4 separate regions of the Homo sapiens genome follow, and all the other regions are linked to region 3. Evidence: fine-mapped expression QTL. A gene starts in region 3. Each other region holds a variant in brackets. All regions are shown on one strand. Distances are from middle to middle.

Region 1 (5,000 bases), 67 kb before region 3:
CTGAGGACCAATGAGGGGCACCCCCCAGCACTCCACAACAAACAGTGATGGCCCAGCACGTGTGGCAGGGACCTGCTCCTGTTCCCAGCAGTTATTTTGCAGAAGATCATAGAAAATTCATGTCTGCCGGGTGCGGTGGCTCATGCCTGTAAGCCCAGCAATTTGGGAGGCCCAGGCAGGAGGATCGCTTGAGCCCACATGGTCGAAACTAGCCTGGGCAACATAGTGACACCCCCATCTCTACAAAAATATTAACATTAGACAGGTGTGGTGGTGTGCACCTGTAGTCTCAGCTACTCAGGAGGCTGAGGCAGGAGGACTGCTTGAGCCTAGGAGTTTGAGGCTACAGTGAGCTATAATTGTGCCACTGCACTCTGGCGGAGCAAGACCCTGTCTCTAAAAATAAATAAATAAATACATAAATAAACAAAGTTTTAACATTTTAAAAATTAGCTGGGCGTGGTAATGCACACCTGCAGTTCCAGCTGTTCAGGAGGCTGAGGCAGGAAGATGGCTTGAGCCTGGGAGGTCGAGGCTGCAGTGAGCTATGATCACACCACTGCACTCTAGCCTGGGCAACAGAGTGAGACCTTATCTCAAAAAACAAACAAAAAACCTCATGGAGTAAAACCCACAGGAAAAGTTGTCATTCCCCAGAGAATGATTTCAAGTGGAAATAAGAAAGGTTGGCGAAGCCTGGCTCCCACAGGCGAGAGAGTAGGGTGGTTTCTCCGCCACTTTCCCCAGCACTGGACCTGGCCTGGGCTGCCGGATCCTGGTGTCACTCCAGCCGGGACAGGTACGACAGCGCAGCTTCTGAGGTTTTCCAGCCACCTGGGCTGAGGGACCACATGTGTTTGTTCACATGGCTCCTCCAGCCCTCGGAGCAGCCCGTCTCTCAATAAGCCCCATTCAACTGTCCTCCGCAGGCGGGCCTCGGCCACGGGGCTGTGCCTGGTACCAGGCTCCTGATACCAAGGCCCCCGATACCAGGCCTGCAGCTGACGGAGGCGGGAAGCAGAGGCTGCTCGAGCCTCACAGCCGCTAAGAGCTGTAAAGTGCCCTGGGGGAAGACAGGTCTGAGGGCGCCCAGCCAGGGTGGGATGGGACACCCAGCTCCAAAGCCAGAGGCCTTGGAGCCATCCGGAAAACTAATCAAGACATCCCATGTCTGATGCTGGGAGTCCACGGAAACATTCCCTTAGCAATCTAAAGAAAATGCTGGGCCGGGCACGGTGGCTCACGCTTGTAATCCCAGTGCTTTGGGATTGGTAATCCCAATGCTTTTGGGATTACCCGAGGAGGGTGGATCATGAGGTCAGGAGAGCGAGACCATCCTGGCTAACACAGTGAAACCCCGTCTCTACTAAAAAAAAAATACAAAAAATTAGCCGGGCATGGTGGCAGGTGCCTGTAGTACCAGCTACTCTGGAGGCTGAGGCAGGAGAATGGCATGAACCTGGGAGGTGGAGTTTGCAGTGAGTCGAGATTGCGCCACTGCACTCCAGCCTGGGCGACAGAGCAAGACTCCATCTCAAAAAAAAAAAAAAAAAAAAGTGCTGAAGGCCAGGCACGGTGGCTCACGCCTGTAATCCCAGCACTTTGAGGGGGCCGAGGTGGGCAGATCACCTAAGGTCAGGAGTTCGAGACCAGCCTGCCCGATTTAGAGAAATCCCGTCTCTACTGAAAATGCAAAATCAGCCAGACGTGGTGGTGCATGCCTGTAATCCCAGCTACTCGGGAGGCTGAGGAAGGAGAATTGCTTGAACCCGGGAGGCAGAGGTTGCAGTGAGCCGAGATTATGCCATTGTACTCCAGCCTGGACAACAAGAGTGAAACTCTGTCTCAAAAAAAAAAAGATGGGAGACCGAGGCGGGTGGATGACGAGGTTAGGAGATCGAGACCATCCTGGCTAACACGGTGAAATCCTGTCTCTACTAAAAAATACAGAAAACAAAATTAGCTGGGTGTGGTGGCGGGCACTTGTAGTCCCAGCTACTTGGGAGGCTGAGGCAGGAGAATGGCGTGAACCTGGGAGGCGGAGCTTGCAGTGAGCAGAGATCGTGCCACTGCACTCCAGCCTGGGCGACAGAGCGAGATTCTGTCTCAAAAAAAAAAAAAAAGTGCTGAAAACGAC[G/A]GCATACACGTGCACACATTTCCTCCTGCGGGAATGAGAAAGAGCAGGAAGCTGAGGGGACCCCACTGCTCCCTGACAGGGACCACCAGCTCAATTCCAGGAAACAGGGAATCACTCCTTCTGGGGTAAGTACCCCAGGCCTCGGTCAGGCCCCCCCCAGTCCCTAGCTGCCCAGGTGTGGGACGCAGAGGCTGGACAGTGACAGCCCACAGACGTCGCGGGAATCAAACGCCTGTGCCCCCCGATTGGAGGCTGAGAGAGGGAAGAAGCACAGTAAGCAGCTCACCCCTAGGCCCTGATTTTGCTTCCTTTATATGGAGGACAATTCCCAAGTCACATTTCCGCCTCAGGCGAGAGAGCTGGAGGATTCTGAGTACGGGTCTCCCGGAGCTGTGCTCACAGGGACAACCCCATGCTGACCCACCCCGGGCAGCCTCCACCGCATCCAGGGGCCGGGCCTAGAAGGTGCCACTGGGACCACCCAGGACATGCCAGTGCAGGGAGACTGCAGAGGGACGGACGGGCTGTGGGACACACAGGTCGCTGGGTCACGTTATGATGAGAAGTCACGCTGAGAAAGGCAAATCCAACAACAGACCTAAAGCCACCTCTGGAGCCGCCAGCTGGGCTCCGTCCCCAGAGCCTAAGACAAGCCTTCCCCAGGGCACAGGGCTGCGGTCCTTCCAGTCCACCCTCAATGCCCTTGGCTCTGCTCTGAGGCTGAGAAGGCCACCCTGAGAGGCCTAGGGTCGGGACAGTTATCGCTTCCGGCAGGCCCAGGGAGGACAGTGCTCTGTCAGAAGGGACCTGATCCCTCCTGAAGCCCTAGAGACACAGAGGGACCCGCCTGGAGGGGCTGGAGGAAGGAGCTGCGACGGAGCCTTGTGGGCAGTGGAGGGGCGAGAAGGCTGCGGGGGTCTGCGATGACCTTTGCGTCCCAAGGCGGCACCTGAAGCCTCCTGGGGGAACCTCCCTGCAGAGGAGGACGCTTGGGGTCCCTGCCCCAGCCCCTGCTCCAATACCAGCCGCTCTAAGAGGGTTTTTAGGACCTCACTGTTAAACACAACAGCCGGCCAAGGCACATCTGTGGTTTGAGGAAGCTTCTACCAGGTGGAACATGGTGCAAAACAGAAGAGAAGAGGGACCCAGGGAAGCCTACGGGAGCTTGGGAGGAGATGAAACATGGTTCCCGTCCCTAGGGAGGTAACGATGCCGTCTCTGTAGGACAGTAAGAACAGCATGCAAAGCACACCTGCAGAGCAAGAACACGCTCTTCAAATTAAAAAATAAGAATTCAAAAGAAGAGAAATACAAATCCAAGAAAGGGTGGAAGGAGAGACTGGAGAAAATCCCTCAGAAAGTAGAGAGAGAAAGGAAAGGAGAGGCATGAGAGACTCAGCTCAGAGGCCCGCCAGGCACAGCCAGTCCCAGAAGCGTGGACAGGAACCTGGGGGTCCAGGCGAGGTGGCTCACACCTGTAATCCCAGCGCTTTGGGAGGCTGAGGTGGGCAGATAACTTGAGCACAGGAGTTCAAGACCAGCCTGGGCAACATGGGGAGACCCCACCTCTACAAAAAATACAAAAATTAGCCGGGCATGGTGGTGCACACCTGTAGTCCCTACTACTCGGGAGGCTGAGGCAGGAGGCTCGCTTGAGCCCAGAAGTACCAGCCTGGGCAACAAAGTGAGACCTTGTCTCTTAAATCAGTGAATAAATGAAAAGTCTGTCTCCTGTGCCCTTTCCCAGGAAGCGACTGGGGGATGGACTCTGGTAAAACAAAGGAACAAATCAGGAAAGAGGAAGACGTGGGAATCAGGAAACAGCCCTCTCTCCACCACCACCTCCTGAGGGGATTCCCAGGATGGTGGAGAAGATGATCCCATGGTCAGAGGGGCCCCAGAGGAAGGCCTTCACAGTAAAGGGAGAAGAGGCCATTATTAACCCCAAGAGCGGGGGGAGTGTGGCGGAAATAAGCCAAAAGTACAAGGAAGGAAATGGCTAAGCGCTACAATCACTACACAGTTCTAATACAGAAAACGCTCATGCAAGGTAAACCAGACATGATGATGTAACTTTACTGGGATGGGGAGGGGGGAAGCTAAATCCTTAATTTCCATATAGGAACCTCATGTGTAATATCTAAAACGGAAAAACCAAGAGACAGTCACGTACGAATACGACTCAGAGACACAGAAGTGAGAGAGAAGGGCTCAGCTCTGGGGAGCGTTGTGTGGGGGAATTTTCACTTTCTGAAATGTTTGCATTTTGTAAGATGCATATAGATAGATAGATAGTCTCTTCGTAATCTGAAAAAGGAAAAATAAACAAATAGGGAAAGAAAATTTTCAGAGGCGAATTTCTTAGAATGATCTTAAAGAATGTGTTCCTTTAAGATAAATCCGACATTGTAAAATGCTGGGAAGCTATTTTTAAAAATTAACTAGTGGATTGCTCCTGTAGTCACGGCTGAGGTGGGAGGATCGCTTGAGTCCCGGAGGTCGAGGCTGCAGCGAGCCGTGACCGGACCACTGCACTCCGGCCTGGGTGTCAGAACAAGACCCTGCTTCAAAACAAAACAAAAACAACAAAGGCAACAACAACCACAACAAAAACAGGCCCAGGCTTGTAATCTTGGCACTTTGGGAGGTCAAGGTGGGAAGACTGCTTGAGGCCAGGAGTTCAGGACCAGCCTGGGCAAGACACCATCTCAACGAAAATAAAAAATGAGCTGGGTGTGTGTGGTGGTGGGTGCCTGTAGTCCTAGCTACTCAGGAGGCTGCAGTGGGAGGATCGCTTGAGCCCGGGAGGTTGAGGTTGCAGTGAGCTGTGACTGTGCCACTGCACTCCAGCCTGGGCAATAGA
Region 2 (5,256 bases), 90 kb before region 3:
CTTGAAACGAAAAAATCCCTTATTCAATCCCCACGGTATTCATGGGATCTCGCGATCTCTGTTTTACAGATGAGGCCACAGGCTCGGAGAGGGGAAGTTTCTGTTCATTCTAACGGATGTGTTGGGTGCCCAAATGTGCTGGGCCCTGGCCATAAGTTTGCCATCCTGCAGACGGCCGAGGGACACAGGGCGACACGCCAGCGTCATGATAAACGCTATGACAGCCTGACCTGGTTGGGGGTCCAACCGGAGGAGGAAGGCTTCGGCGACTGCGGCCTAAGATGAGCCCAGAGGGTGTCCAGACCAAGGGGTGGGGAGGGACGGGCCTAGGGTAGCGATCTGCTTCCTATGGCTTAAATGCACCCCAGGAGGAAACTGATCTCTGGCCGCAGGGGAGATAATGGATTGGGAAGCTCCTGAGGGAGAAAGGAGGCTGGTGCAGTTGTGGTCCAGGTAAGGGAGGTTGCCCCGAAAGTAGGCAGATTCAGTACCATTTAGAGGTAGGATTTGCACCACCTGTGATTGAGGAATTTGCAGGCAGGAGGAAGAAAGTGGAAAAATCAAGGGTAACTTCATGTTTGTGGGGTGTCTGTCTGGGGCAGAAAAGGACGAGGAAATTTGTGCCAAGAGTCATTCATTAAGTGGACAAGCGATGATTGAGTCCTAGCTGCGCTAGGCACTGCTGAAGGTTCTGGGGAATAGGGTAGGGGTGGGAATCAATGTTGCGTAGATAGGGTGGGTCAAGGTTAGGCCTTGAAGGGATAAGCCCCGAGAAGACCCCTGGATGGAAGGAAGGAGGAGGAGGAGGGAGGGCTTCCTGCAGGAGTTCCAAACATGGCTTTGAGATGCCCTAGGGCGCCCAGTGATGTCTGAGGGCACCTGGTGCAGAGAATGAAGAGATGGGAATCGGTGGATGGTGAGCGGTGGATGGGAGTCGGTGGAGTGCGGCGGGTGCCCCTGGAGCCGCAGGTTGAAGACTGGCAAAGGAAAGCTGGTGACAGGTAGTCTATGGAAAGCCTACTGCCAGTGTTTAACGTTTACTAGGGTAAAACGTCCACACCAAAGCGCACAAATCTTAAATGAACTCCACTATTTACATTTCTAGAAATCGGTGGTAAATTTGCAAATGTCTTAAGCCTCGGCTCCATTGGCGACGGTGGGGAGCCGGGGGTTGATTTGTGTTTGATAATTTCTGTGGTGTAAATGTTCCTGCCATGGTTTGAGTTCAAGACCTAGACCATTTCCAGCTCCCCAGAGGTTCCCCGCTGTGGCCCCCTCCCAGTCAACGCCCACTCCCTTCCCCCACAAGTAACTGCTAGTCTCTCTTATCACCAGAGATTAGTTTTGCGTCTTTTTATACTTCATGCAAATGGAATCGTACCGTACTTAGCTTTTCTTGTTCGTCCATGAATATTTGGTCGGTTTCCAGATTTTGACAATAACGAATAGAGCTGCAGTGCACAATTGTATGTCTTCTGGGGTTCTGAGAGATGCACCCCTCTTTGTTGTATAGATACCAGGTTCACAGGGAAGCTAACTTTAACTGAGATTCCAACTGTGTGCCAGGAATCTCAATCTCTCTCTCCCTCTCTCTCTTCACACAGACACGACCTTAAGCAATTTTACCAGGGGTAATATTTGACTTGTTTCTTACAAAATATTTACATTAGTGTAAAATATTATTTTAAGGTCTCACTAGTGAAAAATGGTTGTGCTAATCAAAAGCAAAAAAGGCCAGGCACGGTGGCTCACACCTGTAATCCAAACACTGGGAGGTCGAGGCAGGAGGATCGCTTGAGCCCAGTTCAAGACCAGCCTGGGCAACATGGCAAGACCCTGTCTCTAAACAAGCAAGCAAACAAACAAACACAAAGACAACATCTTAAAAAGGAAAGATGCAATTAATAATTAGCCAACGCAGATCCCTGGAGGAAGCCTACATACGCTTCTCACTCATGTTTGCTATTGGGCTAAAATGTTTTTCTTTTTTTTCTTTTTTTTTTTTTTTGAGACTGAGTCTTGCTGTGTCCCCCAGGCTGGAGTGCAGTGGCGTGATCTCAGCTCACTGCAACGTCCACCTCCTGGGTTCAAGCAGTTCTCCTGCCTCAGCCTCCCAGGTAACTGGGATTACAGGTGCAAGCCACCATGCCTAGTTAATTTTTTGTATTTTTTTTAGTAGAGACGGGGTTTTACCATGTTGTCCAGGCTGGTCTTGAACTGCTGACCTCAAATGATCCACCCGCCTTGGCCTCCCAAAGTGCTGGGATTACAGGCGTGAGCCACCGCGCCCAGCCTGGGCTGACATCTTAAACTAGAACTAATCTGTTAAAGTTATGTTAACCTCTTACAATGGAAATGGAGTAACTTGAAGGAAGACAGAGAAGCAGTGAAACCTTACCTGCAATGGTGGGT[A/T]ACTGTGCCATCGGAAAAATGCAAGTTATTGAACTGAGGGAGTCACATGCAAACACTACAGAACCTTGACAGAAGAGAGACATGTGACAAGCATGCACCACTGTCAAGTCTGTCGGAGGCAGTCACACAGACACACCCAAGGGTCTCATAAGTCTGGGGGACTCTCAGAAGAGACAGTGACTGATGGCATCGCAGCTGAGCTTCGGGGCGCCAGGCCTGTGGGGTGGGGGTGCCTGTGCTGCATGTGAAGAAGTGGGGCGCATTGCAAGCTGAAGTCCCACAGCTGGTAAGGACACAGTAGGAACTTGAACCCAGGTCTGTGTAGTTCCAAAGTCAATGCCATCCCCACCCCCCAGGCCCCACACCTACAATAAGTAAGGCCTGAGAGAATTTCTACCCACGTACATTTCTACCCATCTTGGACATGGGTAGAAATTCTCATCTAGCCAAGGGCCAGCAGGAAGGACCCACAGTTGCCCAGGAGCCACTGGGGCAGCAACGAGTACCTGCAAGTGCCCCCCAGCCAGGATGTGGGCGTGTGCCAGGGGCAGGGGGTTGGCTCAGCTGGTTTCTGCCTTTGCCATGTCTGAGGGGAGACACACGTTGTCTTCACATTCCTGGAGCTGCAAACATCCTCGCTTAGAGCACTCTCAGTGGGTGGGGGTCACTGACTCCAGGAGCCACAGGCACCTGCAGAAGCATCTCCTGTGTGAGCCAGGAACGGGACACCAGGGACCTATGGGCGACTTCCCTTATCAGCAGCCGCCCTTCAGCCTCTGGAGCAGGGGGGCGCAGTGCCTGTGTGTCCAGGGGGCCGGGAGCCTGTATGTCCAGGGGCTCAGGGGTCTGTGTGTCCAGGGGTCAGGGGTCTGTGTGTCCAGGGGGTCGGGAGCCTGTGTGTCTAGGGGGCCGGGAGCCTGTATGTCCAGGGGCTCAGGGGTCTGTGTGTCCAGGGGTCAGGGGTCTGTGTGTCCAGGGGGTCAGGGGCCTGTGTGTCCAGGGGGTCAGGGGCCTGTGTGTCCAGGGGGCCGGGAGCCTGTATGTCTAGGGGGTCGGGAGCCTCTGTGTCCAGGGGGCCAGGTGCCTGTATGTCTAGGGGCTCAGGGGTCTGTGTGTCCGGGGGTCAGGAGCCTGTGTGTCCAGGGGGTCAGGTGTTTGTGTATCCAGGGGGTCGGGAGCCTATGTGTCCAGGGGCCTGGTGTCTGTGTGTCCAGGCCGTCTGTCCGTCCGCCACCTTCAGTAGCCACCTGCGCAGAAGGACCACACCGGAGCCGCAGGGTCATTTCTTTAATATAGAATTTTATTTCTGGTTATAGAAACAAATGCTAAGAGGAGAAACAAAACTTCCCCATCCACATACAACAATTTAATAGATAAAAGAACAGTTAAAATAAATGAAAAACAAAAAGTAGAAATTTTAAACTTTGTTATAGCTTTAAAACATTAACGTCTGATACAATTAGAAATCACATTCAGATCTCAAACTCTTAAAAAAAAGTATGGCTCCTTATTAAAAAAATACTGTATCCCACTTGAAATGAAAACACAGGTTGCCTGCTGTTGACATGGGTGGGGCTGTCCCTTCCTCTGGTGTCGTGCGTGCCCCCTCCCGGTGCTGGGGTGCAGCCACACCCCCCCGCCGGGCGCCCACCTTCACTCCTCCAGGGTGAGACACGCAAGGTGACATGACCAGAACTTCACATCCAATGCTCTAGAACTGACATTTCCACTTCATAGGACACTGCTGCTTTTTAAAGCACTGATTATCAAACATGTTGTGAAAAATACTTTAGACAGGCGCCACTGTAAAAAAAAAAATACACACACACACACACACACACACACACACACACACACCGAACAACACCCGCCCCTCCCAAATTATTTTTACAGGAGAATAATCGTTCAGATTAAAACAACAAGAACAAAAACTCAATATTGGCTTTAACCCCTCCTGCACGTGTGCTGAGCTGCCGGCCTTTGTCATCTGCAGGGCACGTGCAGCCCAAGTGTCTGGACTCAGCGACATCTCAGGACAGACTCTGGAACACGGCTGTTGTCTCTCCTCCCGCCCCCCTTTTCCTGAAACAGAAATCAAGCCACATACATGAAGGTATTCTAGGTATCCAAAAAGCCTTTCTTGAAAAAAAGAAGAGCCAAACTTAAAATACTTGATTTGATTATTATTTTTGAGACAGAGTCTCCCTCTGTTGCCCAGGCTGGAGTGCAGTGGCATGATCTCGGCTCACTGCAACCTCCATCTCCCAGGTTCAAGCGATTCTCATGCCTCAGCCTCCCTGGTAGCTGGGATTACAGGCACACGCCACCACGCCTGGCTAATTTTTTGTATTTTTAGTAGAGACAGGATTTCACCATGTTGGTCAGGCTGGTCTCAAACTCCTCAGGTGATGCGCCTGCCTCGGCCTCCCAAAGTGCTGGGATTACGGGCATGAGCCACCGCACCTGGCCAAATATTTGATTTTAAATTCCCATTGTTACTGATTAAAAAAAAAAAATCTGGACCAGTTAACCTGGAGATTTAGAGGCTATAGACACAATTTAACATCCATACAGGCCTGTGAACTTCATGCAGAGAACAAACAAACAAACAAAAACTCTAATTCAGAGTCTCTCATTTCAGCTTAGCCAACACATTTGGAGACTTAGGGGCCAGTTCTAGAAGCTGCTTTTACCTCTAGACTCGGAGGGGCAGGCCCTGTCACCGAAGGGAGGAAAACTCTTCTTGGCTGTCAGCCCGGATTGAAGCCACTTCGCTTCCCCTGGCCCCAGCTTTCCTGCACTCTTTTCACCGTGTCTGACACAGGGCAAACCACCAACCACTCA
Region 3 (5,246 bases):
GCTGGGCGTGGTGTTGTGCGCCTGTAGTCCCAGCCACTCAGGAGGCTGAGGCAGGAGAATCTCTTGAACCCGGGAGGTAGAGTTTGCAGTGAGCCACTGCACTCCAGTCTGGACAACAGAGCGAGACTCCATGACAGAAAAAAAAAAAAAAAAAAAAGCAAATAGCTCTTTTCTAGGAGGGTGGACATGGACATCCACTTAATGTTTTTCCTTCTGCACATTTGCTTTGTTCTTGTAAATTTTACATTGCTGCCTACATAGATATTGCTCACATGTGCAGGTGAAGTCAAATAAAAACAGACAGGCGCAGTGGGCCAAGCACTTCACGCACATCTAATGCACCAAGTCAGCGGGCGGGCATCTGTGTAGCCTGACAGCCCCACCACAATGCCTGGTAATGCACCCACCGAGAACACGAGCTCCCTGGAGCATAAATGTGCAAGGACTGTATACACCGATAACATTTCATAAATAACAGGCTTGCTACTGGCCTATTCGTAGACGATCTGAGGTTGAAATTTTTTCCCCTTGAATTACAAAAAAAAAATACCGTGAAAGCCTCCTTCAAGATTCACTAAAGCTGGGCCTGACTCAGGAGTGCACCTGTTTCCACGGCAGGGGCAGGAAACCTGAAAACAAGACTTTAATGGAAGTACTTAGTGAACCTGAGTTATATAAAGGTGCGTCTGTAAAGCAGGCCTCTAAGGGGGGCCTGGGGAGCCTACCTGTCATTTTCTTACTGGAGGGGAGAGTGGCCAGGAAATGCATTTAATGGCCCCAAACGGAGAGAGTGTATTGGTTATGGAAGAGAGAGAACACACTAATATCTGAGGCAAAGAACAAATTTGTTATCTCCTGAGTTCTGATTTTACCAAAATGCACACCTTTCAGCACGGTTAGAAAAAGGTATACTTCCCCTCTCACGCCCCAAGGGGGAGTGAGTCATTGTTGATGTTGCATTTTAAATTATTCAATGCGATATCTGTAACCAAACATGCCAAGACTAAAAAAGGGGAGAAGTTTACAGACACAAACTTTGGGCCCTGGGAATTACCCCAGCAAAAATTCCCCAGACGCAAGGCGTTTATAAAAGGGAGTAATTAGACAGACAACCCTGAACAAGAACCACATTGAAGAAATATAAACACTGGTGATGAGTTAGAGGCAATCACTAAATAGAAAAAGAAAGTGGCTCCAGAGGAAATGAGTAATTAAACAGGCTTTCTCCTGATCAACAGACCTTGAGGTCCGGGGCAGAGCAGAGGGTGCGGAGGGCAGTGGAGCTGGAAAGGAGGGAACCGGAATGGGCGGGAGGTGACCACGGGATGCTACCAAAGGCACCGACAGGCCTGGGCAGCCGTCCAGGCCCAGCTGGGTCTCTCTGCCCTGGTGACCTCGGGCCCGGGGGAATCTAATTTGATCTTGGGGTCCCGCTACTCCATCCAAGGAGCACTAGTTGGGGATGTAAACTGAGGCACAGGCTTCCTGTCCTCGCCCCTCCCCGCCAGGCCTCTGCTCCTTCAGCACAGCCCACACTCCTAGGGACCTCGCACTTCCCGGAGCAACACCCTCCCACTGTCCTGGGTGAGTGTGTTGGGGTCCCCCAGGACCCAGACTGGATGGGGTGGGGGTGGCCCAAGGGTCCAGACCAGACAGGGTCAGGGGTAGCCACTGGGGTCCAGGACGGCAGGCATCAGGCACTGGGGTGACTTGAGGCCCTGGCTGGTGGGGGTCGGGGGTGGTCCTGAGAACCAGGTCAGGCTGGGGTGACCCTGGAGTCCAAGCTGGTGGGGGTCCAGGGTGACCTGGAAGGGTTGAGGGTGATCCCCAGGCCCAGGCAGCAGGGACTGGGGTCAAGGTGACCTCAGTAACCCAGCTGGGTGGAGCTGGGGTGGGAGTGGCCCTGCGAGCCCAGGCTTGTGGGGTTAGCGGTCAGGGGTGACTCCGGGGGGGCCTAGGAAGTGGGGGTCGCGGTTAACCTTGCGTGTTTAGGCAGGGTAGGGACGTAGATGACCCCAGGGATCCAGGCCAGTGGGAGTTCAGAATGACCCCGGAGTCCAGGCCGATGGGAGCTGGGGAGCAGCAGGGATCTGGGTCAGGGGTCTAAGAGGCCCAGCCAGATGGGCTTGGGGTATGGGTGGCTCCAGGAGCCCAGGCCGGTGGGAGATGAGGTCAGGGGTGACCCCAGGAGCCGCAAGGTGTGGGTCAGGGCTGACCCCAGAGTCCAGGCCGGTGGGGGTCGGGGGCGACGGGGTATCCAGACCGGGGAAAGTGGAGGAGATCCTCAGGCTGGAGCCTCCAGGATCGGGGTCGGGGTGATCCTAGGGAGCCAGGAGGCGGGGGTCGGGGTTGACCCCGGAGTCCAGGCCGGTCGGGGGTTACCGGGGGTGGGCCGGGGGGTGGGGGTCGAGGCCGAGGAAGCTGGAGGGGGATCCCCAGGCCCGGGCCTCAGAGATCGAGGTCGTGGGCGAGCCCCGGGTGCGGGCGGCGGGGGTCGCGGGGCCACTCACTGCTTGGGCAGCTGCAGGGCGGGCGCGCCGCGTCTCTGGAAGGCCCCGTCCACGAAGACGCCGTTCTTGCCGAGGCAGCGCAGGTAGAAGTGCGGCTCCTGGAAGCTGAGCTGCAGGTGGCGCCGCGAGATGAAGCTGGACAGGCCCATGCTCAAGTCCACCGAGCCCTGCGACGAGTTGCGGCCGATGGTGACGCTGGGCTGGCGCATGAGGAACTCGAACTCGCGGCCCTCCAGCCGCGCCAGCGCCGGCCCCGGGCTCTGCCGTACCGAGGCGGCCGCCGCGGCCACCAGGGCCGGCGCCGCGCCCGCGACCGCGGAGTCCCCGGATACCCCGGAGGAGCCCCCGGAGGAGCCCGCGCCCGCGATCGCGCCCGGAGGCAGCGGCGGTGGCGGCGGCGGCGGCGGCCCGGGCGGAGGCTGGGGCTGCGCGGGGGCCGGCGGGGGTGCGGCCGCGGGGAAGGCGGCGGCGGCGGCTGCGGCGCACAGCACTGGGCTGCAGGGCGCCGAGCGCAGCGCGAGCAGGGCGCGGGCGCCGCTGTCCTCGCCGACTTCGGCCATGTTCGCGCGGCTCCGAGCGGCCTCCGGCGGCGGCGGCTGCAGCGGCGGCGCGGGGGGCGGGGAGGTCGGGGCGCTGGGCGGGCGCGGAAACCCGGGCCAGATCGCGCCGGCGCGGAGCGGAGCCTCCCAGCCCACCGTGCGCCTCGCCTCGCCCGCCCGCCGGTCCCGCCCAGCGTAGCCCACGTGGCGCGCGCCAGCGCGGGGCTGGGGGCGAGGCCTGTGCCGGGAGGGCCGGCGGGCCCCCGGGAGAGCTGGGCCCGGCGCACCTCGTCCCCTCCCCGCGGGGCTGCAGGCGGCGGGCGCCCTTTCCTCCATCCAGGGGGAAGAGGGGACCCCTGAAATGCCCAGCCACAAAGTTTTGAGCCTGGGTCATTGGAGAAAGGGACGGATGACCTCAGCAGTCTCCCCGCCCCAGACACTCCAGGCCCCCAACCCTAAAGTGTAAGATAGACAGAAGATAAAATATATGTGTATTATATACAATACATATGTTTATATTCTAACCTCGCTCTGTCGCCCAGGCTGCAGTGCGGTGGCAAAATCATAGCTCACTGCAGCTTCCACCTCCTGTGCCCAAGTCACCCTCCTGCCTCTGCCTCACAAGTGCCACCACGCCCAGCTAATTTTTTTACTTCTTATAGAGACAGGGTCTTGCTATGTTGGCCAGGCTGGTCTCAAACTCCTGGTCTCAAGTGATCTATCTATCTCGACCTCCCAAAGCACTGGGATTACCCGTGTGAGCCACAGTGCCAGGCCTGATCATTCTTAAGCCCTCAGATTAAAGGTCATCATACTCTACTGTAACTGAAGACCACTTGAGATCCATCCCTGAATCCCTGATCCATCCTTCCTTCCTTCTTTCCTTCCTTCCTTCCTTCCCTTCCTTCCCTTCATTCCTTCCCTTCCCTTCATTCCTTCCTTCCCTCCCTTCTTTCCTTCCTTCCTTCCTTCCCTTCCTCCCTCCCTTCCCTTCCTCTCCTTCTTTCCCTTCCCTTCCTTCCTTTCCTTCCTTCCTTCCCTCCCTCTCTTCCTTCCTCCCTCCCTTTCCTTCCTTCCTTTCCTTTCCTTCCTTCCTTTCCTTCCTTCCTTCCCTCCCTCCCTTCTTTCCTTCCTTCCTTCCCTTCCTCCCTCCCTTCCCTTCCTCTCCTTCCTTCCCTTCCCTTCCTTCCTTTCCTTCCCTTCCTTCCTTTCCTTTCCTTCCTTCCTTCCTTTCCTTCCTTCCCTCCCTCCCTTCCTCCCTCCATTTCCTTCCTTCCTTTCCTTCCTTCCTTCCTTCCTCCTTTCCTTCCTTCCTTCCTTTCTTTCTTCCCTTCCTTCCTTCCTTCTTTTTTTTTTTTTTTGAGACGGAGTTTCGCTCTTGTTGCCCAGGCTGTAGTGCAATGGCGCAATCTCGACTCAACGCAACCTCCACCCCCTGGATTCAAGCAATTCTCCTGCCTCAGCCTCCCAAGTAGCTGGGATTACAGTCATGTACCACCAGGCCCGGCTCATTTTGTATTTTTTTAGTAGAGATGGGGTTTCTCCGTGTTGGTCAGACTAGTCCTGAAAACCCGACCTCAGGTGATCTGCCCGCCTCAGCCTCCCAAAGTCCTGGGATTACAGGCGGGAGCCACCGTGCCCGGCCGCCTGCCTGCCTTCCTTCCTTCCTTCCTTCCTTCCTTCCTTCCTTCCTTCCTTCCTTCCTTCCTTTCTTTCCCTCCCTCCCTCCCTTCCTTCCTTCTCTCTCTTTCTTGTCTTTTTCTTTTGAGACAGGGTCTCACTCTGTCACCCAGGCTGGAGTGCAGTGGTACAATCATAGCTCACTGCAGCCTCAACCTTCAGGGCTCAGGTGATTTTCCCACCTCACCCTCCCAAGTAGCTGGGACTATGAGCCACCATGCCCGACTAATTTTTAATTTTTTTTTTTTTTAAGGCAGAGTCTTAATCTGTCACCCAGGCTGGAGTGTAATGGTGCAGTCTCGGCTCACTGCAACCGATTCTCCTGCCTCAGCCTCCCAAGTCGCTGGGATTACAGGCATCTGCCACCACACCCAGCTAATTTTTGTATTTTTAGTAGAGACGGGGTTTCAACCATGTTGGTGAAGCTGGTCTCAAACTCCTGACCTCAGGTGATCCACCTGCCTCGACCTCCTAAAGTGCTGGGGCTGCAGGCGGGAGCCGCCTCACCTGGCCTTTT
Region 4 (5,000 bases), 74 kb before region 3:
CGTGGATGGCGTGGCCCGCGGGCTGCTGTGAGGTTACGATGGAGGCGGGCATGTAGGCCACGGGCTTGGCCACGAGGCTGGACGGTCGGGGAGGCACGGCCATGATCACTGGCTGGGCGCTGACGGGGGAGCCTGCACGGAGGGCGGAGAGCGGACGGTGACCCCTCCCGCACCCCCACGAGTCCCGCCCCGCCCCGCCCCGCAAGAGGGCCGCCCGCTCCTTACCGGGTGCGCTTTGGGAATACCGGTACTCTGGGACAGAAGCTAACTTGGACCCAAACTCAGGGTCGTGTGGAATGGGGGAGCCCTCCCGAGACAGGCACTCTGGGGTCTGCAGGCCGCCGGAGCGAGGGGACATCAGCCCGGGGTGTGTGGGCGAAGCTGGAGCGCTCCTGGAAGACAGGCAAGGGCCGCGGCAGTCAGCGCCCGCGCTGAGGGATGCGAGGACGTTTCCGAGACATCACGCATCTCAGCGCCGTCACCCGCCCACGCTCCCTGGAGCTCGTCTCTGTCCTCCGCATTCAGACGGTGAGAAACGCCCCCGTAACCTGAACCCAGCCTTTAAAACTCCATTTGAGTGGGGGCTGCATGGGGGAGGCTCCGTTCCATGAGAGGGGACGGTATCATGTGAGGTGCTGCAGTGAACGCAACAACCTACGGAGTTCACTTCCACCGAGGTCCAGCCAGGTGTCCATGAAAATGGCCCAGGCCTTCTGTGCCAAAAACATAAGCTTCTGTTTGGTGGGCGCAACCGTTCCACCATGAAAACTCTACCCGAGAGGGGTGTTTGAACGTCATTTGGAGCTCAGTTTAAATGCTGCAAATGACGTTCGAACACTTTTTTGAAGTCCTACCTCAACCATACGCCCAGTTCACCTGAGAATCACAATGCCAGACCCTGTGCTCGAAATGAATTTTCAGATATTTCAATCTTTCATCAAATCGTGTTGGAAACAGAATTTTGAAATGGGAAGCACGAGAGGTTAACGTGTCCTTCCACGGGGAAGGATTTCCGAGACTGCCGCTCAGGAGATCTCCTCCTCGACACCTGGGACGGGCTCATCTGATGGGCAACCTGGGAAGCGCTGCCCAGACCGCTCACAGGCGGTGCATGCTCCTCCAGACTGGGCTTGGCCAAGACTGAGCTGGGCAGGGGAGGCCCTGACGCAGCAGGTGGGCAGCAATGGCTGGGGGAGGGTCTGTCCACCCCGCCGGCAGCAGAGCTGCGTTCCCAGCATCTGCGAAAAGCAAAGGCGGTTGTGGGCTCCCCAGGTCATACCCCTCATCTGTCCCTTCGAAGATTGGGCTCTCCCCGGGTCCTCTCACACACTGCAACAGAAAGCTTAGTGCTACCAAAAGACCCACAACCGCAATCCATTTATTCTTGGCCTTAGGAACCGTTCCTATTGCTACACACATTTCCACTTCTAAGAACTAAAATCTTATTTTTAATACAACAGTCAGTGGCTTACTTAGTAACCTTACTATTTTAGGAGTTCTTGGTCCTGAGATATTCTCTCAAAACAAAAACAGAAAATGGTGCAGTCTTTAAGTGCCGAAACCAGCAGTCACCCCTCGGTACTTGAGGGGCGGGGGTTGTGGGTACCAAATCTGCAGATGCTTACCCAAGTTCCTCATAGAAATGGTGTCGCATTTGCATACAACCTGTGCACATCCTCCTGTAAGCTTTAAATCATCGCCAGGTTACTTATAATCCCTAACAAATGTACCTGCTATGTAAACAGCTGTTGTAGTGTGTATTGTTTCATTTGTATTACTTTTTTTTTTTTTTTTTTTTTTTTTTTTTTGAGACGGAGTTTTGCTCTTGTCGCCCAGGCTGCAGTGCAGTGGTACATACAATCTCGGCTCACTGCAACTTCTGCCTCCGAGATTCAAGCGATTCTCCTACCTCAGCCTCCCCAGTAGCTGGAATTACAGGCACCTGCCACCATGCCCGACTAATTTTGAATTTTTTTAGTAGAGGCAGGGGTTTCACCATGTTGGCTAGGCTGGTCTCAAACCCCTGACCTCAGGTGATCCACTTGCCTCGGCCTCCCAGAGTGCTGGGATTACAGGCGTGAGCCACCGCGCCGGCCTTCTTTTTTTTGGAATATTTTTGACCTGTGATCAGTTGCATGCCCGTACACTGAGCCTGAGCCCACAGATCCGGAGGGCTGACTGCGCCACGTATCTCTAAACTCCAGGGCAGCTCAGCTTTCCTAACAGCTGGAGGACGGGCGCTCAGAGAACTTTACCTTGAGGACAGAGGCCCGAAGGGGGTGCGGAAGCAGGAGACACCCCTCTGCCTCCGTTTCCGGAATGCCTGTTCCACGAGCTTGGCTTCAGAGGCAGGGTCTATTCGCCAAAAGGACCCCTTCCCAGGCTCCTCCTGGGAACGTGGGACTTTGATAAAGTAACGGTTCAAAGAGAGGTTGTGCCGGATAGAATTCTGCAGGGAAGCAGAGATATTCACCCATCACCAGCAAATCAGAAAATGAGTCCCACCCACCTCAAATCTGCAGCAGATGCGGGACCAGGGTGAGGGGAGGCCGTCCCTCTGTGCAGAGCCCTTGGTGCTGTGCTGGCTGGGCCTCACGGGAGCAGCACCGAGGCACAGGGCAGGTCATTCCTATCAAAATTTGACACCGCATAATTACCATTTTACCTTTTTTTTTTTTTTGACGGAGTCTCATTCTGTCGCCCAGGATGGAGTGCAGTGGCACGATCTC[G/A]GCTCACTGCAAGTTCCGCCTCCCGGGTTCAAGGGATTCTCCTGCCTCAGCCTCCTGACTAGCTGGGACTATGGGCGTGGGCCACCATGCTGGGTTGATTTTTTTGTATTTTTAGTTGAGATGGGGTCTCACACTCTTGGGCTTAACCAATCCTTCCACCTCGGCCTCCCAAAGTGCTGGGATTACAGGCATGAGCTACTGTGCCTGGCTGCCATTACCATTCTTTACAGAAAAAGTGAAACAGAAAGACAGATCCTGGTCTAGGAGCACATCTGGGAGAAAGAAAACACTGGGTCTTGGCCGGGCACAGTGGCTCACGCCTGTAATCCCAGCACTTTGGGAAGCCGAGGCTGGCAGGATTACCTGAGGTCAGGAGTTTGAGACCAGCCTGGGCAACATGGTGAAACCCCATCTCTACTAAAAATACAAAAAATAGCCAGGTGTGGTGGTGGGCACCTGTAGCCCCAGCTACTTGGGAGGCTGAAGCAGAAGAATCGCTTGAACCTGGGAGGCGAAGGTTGCAGTGAGCTGAGATCGCGCCACCACACTCCAGCCGGGATGGCAGAGCGAGATCCTGTCTCAAAAAACAAACAAACAAACAAAAAACCAAAGCTAGTGGATGCGCTACACTGACATTGGAGAAAATACAGGCAAATGCAACATGCATCAGTCATGGCTGGTGTGGACAAAGCTCTTAAAATGCCATCCACAATTCAGACATGTGGATTGTTTGAATAACAGTATATGGTACATTTTTCCAACTTAACGTGGGATTGTGAGGCACAGCAAGCACAAAAATCTAACAAGGTGTAGATCCATCTTCTCAGTTCTGGGGCTCAGAAGAAGGAAACTAATAAAAAAGAGTATTTAGACACAATGGTATCACAGCGCTAATGCCTTTCAGATGTACCATATGCCATTCGTGAAAACATCCCTCTTTTATATTTATCTTCTTAGTTAAAAAGATATTTTTTTTCTTTGTAGACACAGGGTCTTTCTCTGTCTCCCAGGCTGGAGTGCAGTGGTGTGATCATAGCTCACTGCAGCCTCCACCTCCTGGGCTCAAGTGATCCTCCCACCTCAGCCTCCGAGTAGCTGCGACCACAGGTGTGCACCACCACACTCAGCTAATTTTTAGTAGAAAAGAGGTTCTCTCTATGTTGCACAGGCTGGTCTTGATCCTCCTCCTGCCTCGGCCTCACAAAATGCTAGGGTTCCAGGCGTGAGCCCCCTCACTGGCCCTCTTCTGTTTTAAGGGAAGCAATATGCCTGTGAGTTCCATGTTCTAAGGGCCTTCAGAGGCGATCCGGCCCTGGGGACTCGGCTTCACCTGCCAGCCTTTGTCGGCCGTCCGGTAGTAGGGGTAATGCTTGGTGATGTGGGCGTAGATCCCGCTCAGGGTCAGCTGCCGGTCCTGGGCGGAGGAGATGGCCTGCACGATCAGCTGCGCGTAGGAGAACGGCGGCTTTGACTCATCCTGCGGAGAAACACGGCTCACGGGATGAGCTCCAGCAAGGTCCCTGAGTCTACCCCACCCACCCGTCACAGCTGATGGGGAGGAACCTTCCCACGAGAATGTGCGCGTCTTGCCGGCACCCGTCCCAGTGCCCTCCAACTATCCCATTAATGTGCTTGCATTCAACTAGGAACAACCATTTTTGCCTCATGGGAAGGAAAACTTCGGTTTTATTATAATTTAATTCTGAAATTTCTCACCTCTTCCAGAAATCAATTTGAAAACAGCTATTGGACAAAAATGAACTAAGACAAAGTTATAAGGAGAACGCCATCCTGCTCAAGGGCTGTATGAAGGCTTTGACGCCGGGCTGCCAGCGGCAGATGAACAAGGAGCGTGGCGGGAGGGGCCCTCGGTGACGGCGCCACCCCTGTCACCAGCAAATGACCAACGGGGATGATTTGGGCACGAAAACGAGAAAGGGCCGACGGCTCTACCGCCAGCTGCGGCTCCATTCCCTGTGGGCTGAGACCACCTCGAGCACACGCCCGCAGGCCCTGGGCTGTCTGTGCCGCCCGCGCCGGGTCACTATGGCCCGATCCTGGGTCACCAGGTGCACCACGGCGCCAGGTGGGCTCAGACCTTGGGGCTGTCTCCTCCAGACGTGTCTGCCTGCTGCTCCGACGCGGCCTTTGCTGCAAACTCTGCTGCCAGCTGCAGGTCCGAGGTCACGTTCTGCACAAAGCGGTAACTGGAGGAGCCGGCACCGCGTGGACTGGCTGGGCAGGAGTTGGGGACACTGAGGAGAGAGAAGG

The links. PIP is the estimated chance that this variant, and not a neighbour inherited with it, causes the effect.
Region 1: its variant is fine-mapped to the expression of FOXK1 in whole blood (TOPMed, PIP above 0.99).
Region 2: its variant is fine-mapped to the expression of FOXK1 in whole blood (INTERVAL, PIP 0.97).
Region 4: its variant is fine-mapped to the expression of FOXK1 in pancreas (GTEx, PIP 0.92).

The regions. Positions count from the first base shown.
Region 1 is chr7:4,747,569-4,752,568 of GRCh38, reverse strand. All of the region lies in intron 2 of FOXK1 (forkhead box K1), which reads right to left. Among named protein-coding and RNA genes, the nearest start is that of AP5Z1, 26 kb to the left of the region's middle. RefSeq lists an enhancer at 2,226-2,725. The variant G/A (reference allele first, on the strand shown) is at 2,138.
Region 2 is chr7:4,769,878-4,775,133 of GRCh38, reverse strand. It overlaps FOXK1 (forkhead box K1), which reads right to left. Exons shown (of 9, transcript NM_001037165.2): 9 at 3,692-5,256. Among named protein-coding and RNA genes, the nearest start is that of AP5Z1, 3.1 kb to the left of the region's middle. RefSeq lists enhancers at 1-42, 1-92, 93-769. The variant A/T (reference allele first, on the strand shown) is at 2,413.
Region 3 is chr7:4,680,133-4,685,378 of GRCh38, reverse strand. It overlaps FOXK1 (forkhead box K1), which reads right to left and starts at 3,084. Exons shown (of 9, transcript NM_001037165.2): 1 at 2,511-3,084. The coding sequence starts at 3,070. RefSeq lists enhancers at 1,700-2,227, 3,087-3,381, 3,583-4,083 and silencers at 2,784-2,853, 3,004-3,373.
Region 4 is chr7:4,754,443-4,759,442 of GRCh38, reverse strand. It overlaps FOXK1 (forkhead box K1), which reads right to left. Exons shown (of 9, transcript NM_001037165.2): 3 at 4,828-4,984; 4 at 4,060-4,206; 5 at 2,256-2,449; 6 at 226-392; 7 at 1-132. Among named protein-coding and RNA genes, the nearest start is that of AP5Z1, 19 kb to the left of the region's middle. The variant G/A (reference allele first, on the strand shown) is at 2,730.